Homo sapiens: one gene and its partner. The protein of the gene in region 1 purifies or fractionates together with the protein of each later gene. This does not show direct contact. Each region holds a gene or a part of one and is shown on either strand. Other genes may lie near its edges.

The links. The genes of interacting proteins can lie anywhere in the genome.
Region 2: the proteins of MNDA (region 1) and ATXN2L purify together in Homo sapiens (affinity purification with mass spectrometry; one large-scale study listed by BioGRID and IntAct). This does not show direct contact.

The regions. Positions count from the first base shown.
Region 1 is NC_000001.11:158,829,837-158,833,595, reverse strand, and holds the start of MNDA (myeloid cell nuclear differentiation antigen), read right to left. Parts: upstream 2,246-3,759; 5' UTR 2,039-2,245; intron 1-2,038. UniProt on the Homo sapiens protein: May act as a transcriptional activator/repressor in the myeloid lineage. Plays a role in the granulocyte/monocyte cell-specific response to interferon. Stimulates the DNA binding of the transcriptional repressor protein YY1.
Region 2 is NC_000016.10:28,832,999-28,835,524, forward strand, and holds part of ATXN2L (ataxin-2-like protein), read left to right. Parts: intron 1-60; coding exon 61-356; intron 357-440; coding exon 441-510; intron 511-1,066; coding exon 1,067-1,213; intron 1,214-1,344; coding exon 1,345-1,417; intron 1,418-1,507; coding exon 1,508-1,695; intron 1,696-2,059; coding exon 2,060-2,189; intron 2,190-2,279; coding exon 2,280-2,401; intron 2,402-2,526. UniProt on the Homo sapiens protein: Involved in the regulation of stress granule and P-body formation.

The DNA of each region.
Region 1 (3,759 bases):
ACAAAAAGCACACGCTTACTGTATGATTAAACATATATGAAGAGTTAGAGTTTTTAAATTTATGGGGAAAGAAGGTAGAATGATGTTTGCCAAGCTCTGGAGGAAAGGGGAATGGTGAAATTGTTGGTTAACGGTTAGAGTTTTAGTTTTGCAAGATGCAAAGGCGTTCTGGAGGTTGGTTGCACAACAATATGAATGTATTTAATACTACTGAACTGTACACTTGAAGCTGATTAAGATGACACATTTTATGTTACATGTTTCTTAACACAATTAAAAGAAAACAATTATTATATTCAAAGCTTTCAGAAGCTTGGCAGTGAAAATATCCATACCCACAGCTCTTTGTGAAGAACTACTCATTATGAAAAGAAATAAATCTAAGAAATGTTGGAGGCCAAAAGGGAAGAAAGATCAAGCAAATACTTTAATTAGTGTTTTTACTATCTTAAAAATAAGTAAAGCCAGAGTCAAATAAAAGAAAACAGGAACTATATGAACATACTCTTAACAGGTGAAGTTGTATGTTTGGGGGACCAGAAGATGTGAGAGTTTGCTAAGGGGCTTGTCTTTAAGGAGAATATAGATTTTTTAAAAATAAGAAACTTGACAAGAAAGGAGAAGAAGAAAGCACAGAATAAGTGCTATAAATTGAAACAAAGTAAGATGGCAAAACCAAGTTAAAATATATACCTTTATAGAATTTGCATATCTGGACTAAACTCATCAACTAGGAGGAAAAATTTTCAATTTGGATTAAAAATAAATCCAGTCATATGTTGTTGACAAAGTACAAATAAAGCATAAGTTCACTTAAGTTTGAGAAAGAGCTGGAAAAGTTATATTCTTCAAACTCTAACTTAAAGAAAGACTTTTTAGGAAAAATAGTGTAGCTTAAAATAGGCTTAAGTCAATAAGTATCAGTACATAGTTTCACTACATAATGGTAAAGTATGCAACTTGGAAAAAGATATAATAATTTAAATTATATTATAAATATAATCTGTTATTACTTTATAAAGTAGCATATAGAAGTTTTTTCTTCTCTCTAAACACACACATAACATATATACTTAGATATACATATTCTATGTAAAAATATATGGTAGAAATCAAAAGAACTACAATGAGAAATTAACAAAATCACTATTAGAGTTGGAGATTTCACCACATCTCTCAGTTACTGAAAGAACAAGGTAAAAAATAGCTTAGATTTAGATTTAGATTTTTCAAACATAATTAACAAGCTTACTTAAGAAACTTTATCTTACTTAAATAGAATTTGGAATCCAACGTTTATAAACTCTTCTCAAGTACTCATGGAGTAATTAGAAAACATTCATATGTACAAAGCCATAAAAAAGTCAAAATGTATCCCAAAGTAGGAAATATATAATTGATTCTCCCTGTCTTTTCATTATACCTTGCCACAAAAAATGTTATCTATGACTGAGTAAAGCATAGACCATTTGAAAAAGAGAATTATTTCTTCTTACACTTGTTGTAAAATGAAGCATAAAATGAAACTGATTCATGAAAATGTAAAGATTATTTTTGAGTAAATGCTTGTAAAATTGAGAAATTAATGTGTGCACATGTCTATGCTTTTTAAAATAGAGATAAAATCATATAATAGAGATTTATATCCTGGTTTATTTTTTACTAAATATTACTTCATAATAATTTTCTTATCTGACTGTCTTGTCTTTTAACTTAGGCCCAAACCCAGTCACCAAGTCATCCTCCAGCCAAGAAAACCAAGTATCTCCTCTAAATATCAATTTATGCCAAAAGACACCCAAGAATTAATTTTTAAAACCTGCTGTAGACAAAATACATTTTTTTGGTTCATACCCCAATTGTGGTAGAATAAAAGATATCCATTTGCTACCTAGACAGTTAAAGCATTCAGTTCTCAGTTTTCTGAATATGATTGATAACAACACTTCTGGTCTCAGGCAATTATTCTCTACTGAGATGGTGTGGTTACCAACTAGATACCTAGATCTTTCTCTAAAGAACTTCCCAGAAATCTCACCTTAATGGATGCTTCTTCCACAATAGTCTTCAGAAATCCTGGAGTCACTGTCTTGTTTAGGACAGAATCACTGTCCGTAAAGCTTTGGAGAGATTAAACTGCAGACTATTTTAATCTTGTAAAGGGCTGAGAAATGAAAGCTAACAAGGAAAAATGGCACTTGTTAGAGCCACTCTCAATCTTGATTGTAGATGGCCTTCTTACACTGTCCTAATTCCTAACTAGAAAGAAGTTATGTAATCATGAAACAATTTTGAAGCCACGCCTATCAGCCTTTGTAGCTTTCTATTTCAGATGTCAGAGAAAGTGGTCAGTTCCTCTTTGTAGTAAGTAATCTCAGTCACAAGGAGAAATGACAGTAAATGGTGCCTCTTCTTCGCTTTTTTGACTTACAAATACTTGCTGAAAGGAGTTTCAAACTCAGAACTTTCTTATAAAGCTAACTTACATATAGGTCATTAGAAACCGGTAGCCGCTTGAATAAGGATCTTAATATAAATTGGGAAAGGCAAAACACCAAAGTTTCTCCCTCCTTTCCTGTTCACAGAGTGGCAGGAGCAGGAGATCTTGGTAGAGATGTCTATTGCTACCAGAACTTGACTTCATCTCTTGGATAGGGGTGGGTCTACTGTGAAATTGTTTTTGTTTAAATAGTACCTACATATTCACCCAGTTATTAATAACTGATACACCTGGAGCTTGACAGAGGCAGAAAGTCATTATGAATATGTAAATCCTTATTCAAATAATTTGAAAGAGTTTCATACTAGTTGCTCTCTTGAGTATAATAACTGAGCTGCCTTACCTTGATTATTAAATTCATGATTACTCATGCTTTTTGCATTATTTATGGATAGTTGGTTCATATCATGACTGAAACCTTGAACATTCTGGAACAGCACTGAAACTCTGGAATGATAGGGGGCCTGATAAACCCTTTGTACTGCAATTTTTTTTTCCTGTGAAGAACAGTGGGTGCACTACAAAGTATCATAACTCTGAATTGTCAAATGAATGGTATCAGTTAGCAGACAGTGCTGTGGTTACCAACTAGCTGATCTGTAAGCAAAATGTGGTCATGACTGGAAAAGGATCCCAAAACAGCTAATAGGGGAAAATGATCCAAGGCCATCTACAGAGAAGAATAAAGCTGATTGTCTTAATCCAAACCAGCAGCATAGAGAGAGTTAAAGTTTGGATTTGGAAACTGTCTAAACCCCACTAAAGCAGGGTAAATCAGAAAAAACCAAGAGGATCTAGAATGACAGCCACTAACACATGTGGGTGTTCATTGTTTCAGTTTCTCTCTTATGCTGATGCTTCGAGCAGGTCTTAAGGTAAAGGGTAAAGAGGAACACAAGGAAACCTTATCAGGTGCCCCACTTCAGTGTTTGGGAACCAAAAGAGCTCACGACAGGAGTTACCATGTTTCAGGACAGCTTTCTGCCCTGATATGGTTTGGCTCTGTGTTCCCACCCAAATCCCATCTTGTAGCTCCCATAATTCCCACGTGTTGTGGAAGGGACCTGGTGGAAGATGAATGAATTATGGGGGCAGATCTTTCCCATGCTGTTCTCATGATAGTAAATGGGTCTCATGAGATCTGATCGTTTTAAAATAGTTTTTAAAAAATGGGAGTTGCCCTGAGCAAGCTCTCTCTTTGCCTGCTGCCATCTACGTAAGATGTGACTTGCTCCTCCTTGCCTTCCACCATGATTGTG
Region 2 (2,526 bases), on another chromosome or scaffold:
AGAAGAAAGCCAGGACTAGGGTCTGGGTCAGACTGGACTGTGTGTGTTTCTCTCTTCCAGCTTCAGCCCAGTAGCTCCCCTGAGAACAGCCTGGATCCTTTTCCTCCCCGGATCTTAAAGGAGGAGCCCAAAGGAAAGGAGAAAGAGGTTGATGGTCTGTTGACTTCAGAGCCCATGGGGTCTCCCGTCTCCTCCAAGACAGAGTCCGTATCGGATAAGGAGGACAAACCACCCCTGGCACCATCAGGAGGCACTGAGGGGCCAGAGCAGCCCCCACCACCTTGTCCAAGCCAAACTGGCAGCCCCCCGGTGGGCCTCATCAAGGGAGAAGACAAAGATGAGGGCCCTGTTGCTGAGTGAGTGGAGCGGGGTGGGGCTCTGGGAGGATGGCAGGAGGGATGAGAGCAAGCCGTGAAGATTTACTGTACTTTCTCTCACAGACAAGTAAAGAAATCAACGTTGAACCCTAATGCTAAGGAGTTCAATCCTACAAAGCCTCTGCTGTCTGTGGTGAGCTGGGACAGGAGAATGTGGACTTTGGTTTCTGTGGGGAGACTTGGGCAGTGCTTATAGATGAATAGGGGGAGGAACACTTCACTTCCAGGACCACTTGCCTGGCAGGCAGTGTGAGGAGATGTCATAAAAATGTAAGGATGGCACCTTTGGGGCTGGCTTGGGGAAAATGGACTCAGGTCTCTAGGTTTGGGTGATCAGGGGATCAGGGATCCCAGTGAGTCTGATGAGGGGTTAACAGGCTTTTCTTTGGTTCTTGGCATTTGGCTGAGGGAGTATTGGAGTGGGGTAGTCATGAACAGAGGCCAGCTGACTTGGCTTGAGCCCCTGTATTTGGAAGGTTTGTGATCTTGGACGTCACTTACATTCTCTGCCTCACCTGTAACTTTAGAATACTCATCTCCTCATAGGGTTTAATGTGAGGCTTTATCAAGATAAGTGCAGAATATGTTTGGTATGCAGCATTTCACGAATGTTAATTATTACCACTCTAGGCATGGCCAGGAGTAGAGGGGAAAATACAAAATAAAATTGTCCTCCCTTGTTTTTGCAGAATAAATCCACCAGTACCCCAACTTCTCCGGGGCCCCGGACTCATTCAACTCCCTCCATCCCGGTGCTGACAGCAGGCCAGAGTGGGCTATACAGCCCCCAGTACATCTCCTACATACCTCAGATCCACATGGGACCAGCTGTGCAGGTATGCAGAGAGACTGGCCGGGCCCAGGGTTAGCGGGGTGGGATTTGGTTGCGCTGGTTGAGGGACCAGGTCAGGCCTGTCTGGGCATTCGTGAGCGAGTCATTCAGCCTCATCTGTGTCCTCATCCCCAGGCACCTCAGATGTATCCATATCCTGTATCCAATTCAGTGCCTGGGCAGCAGGGCAAGTACCGGGGAGCAAAAGGTGAGCAGGGCTGGGAGGGGCAGGCGGCGAGGCTGCCAAGGGCCTACTGGCAGGTGGAGCTTGAGCTCTCCTCTCCTCCTCCTCTTCCAGGCTCCCTTCCTCCGCAGCGCTCGGACCAACACCAGCCAGCCTCAGCCCCGCCGATGATGCAGGCCGCCGCGGCTGCTGGCCCGCCTCTGGTGGCTGCCACGCCCTATTCTTCCTACATCCCCTACAACCCTCAGCAGTTCCCAGGCCAGCCAGCCATGATGCAGCCCATGGCCCACTACCCCTCACAGGTGACTGCGGCCCAGGAGGGCAGTGAGGATCCAGGGCCCCTGCTAGGGATCCCATCTTCTCCAGAGACTTGGGAGCTGGCTAGGGGTGGCAGGCAGTGTTGTAGGTGGGATCGGCCCTCTGTGGTATTGGCGGTGTCAGACTTGGGCTTGAGCCCTGGCTCTGGTGGTACCTGTAACAAGGCATTGGACATCTGTATCTCTGAAGTGTAGAGAAAATAGTGTCTGCTGGGTGGGATCGTTATGAATGTTGAATCAATAGGGTGATTGTGAGGAGGCCCAAGCGGTGCTGTGCACGCAGTGACTGGCAGGAGGACACCTTCCCAGCTGGCGGCTGTGCCAACCACTCCTCTCTCTGTCCCGCCAGCCGGTGTTTGCCCCCATGCTTCAGAGCAACCCACGCATGCTGACGTCGGGCAGCCATCCCCAGGCCATCGTGTCATCCTCTACCCCTCAGTACCCTTCTGCAGAGCAGCCTACCCCCCAAGCCCTTTATGGTGAGTCCTGCGCCTGGTCCCTCTGCTCTGGGCTGTGTGCCAGCCCCCTCTGGTGTGCTCAGCACTGGTTCTCCCTCTTTCCTGCTGCAGCCACTGTTCACCAGTCCTACCCACACCATGCCACACAGCTCCATGCCCACCAGCCGCAGCCGGCTACCACGCCTACTGGAAGCCAGCCGCAGTCCCAGCATGCGGCCCCCAGTCCTGTCCAGGTGCCTGCCATGGGGGGTGCTGAGTGGTCCTGGTGCAGGAATGGGTGGCCAGAAGAAGGGATAGAGCTAGGGGTCATTTCTGAGTGGCGAGGACTGGGGGCCAGCGAGTTGCTGGCCTGTGTGGC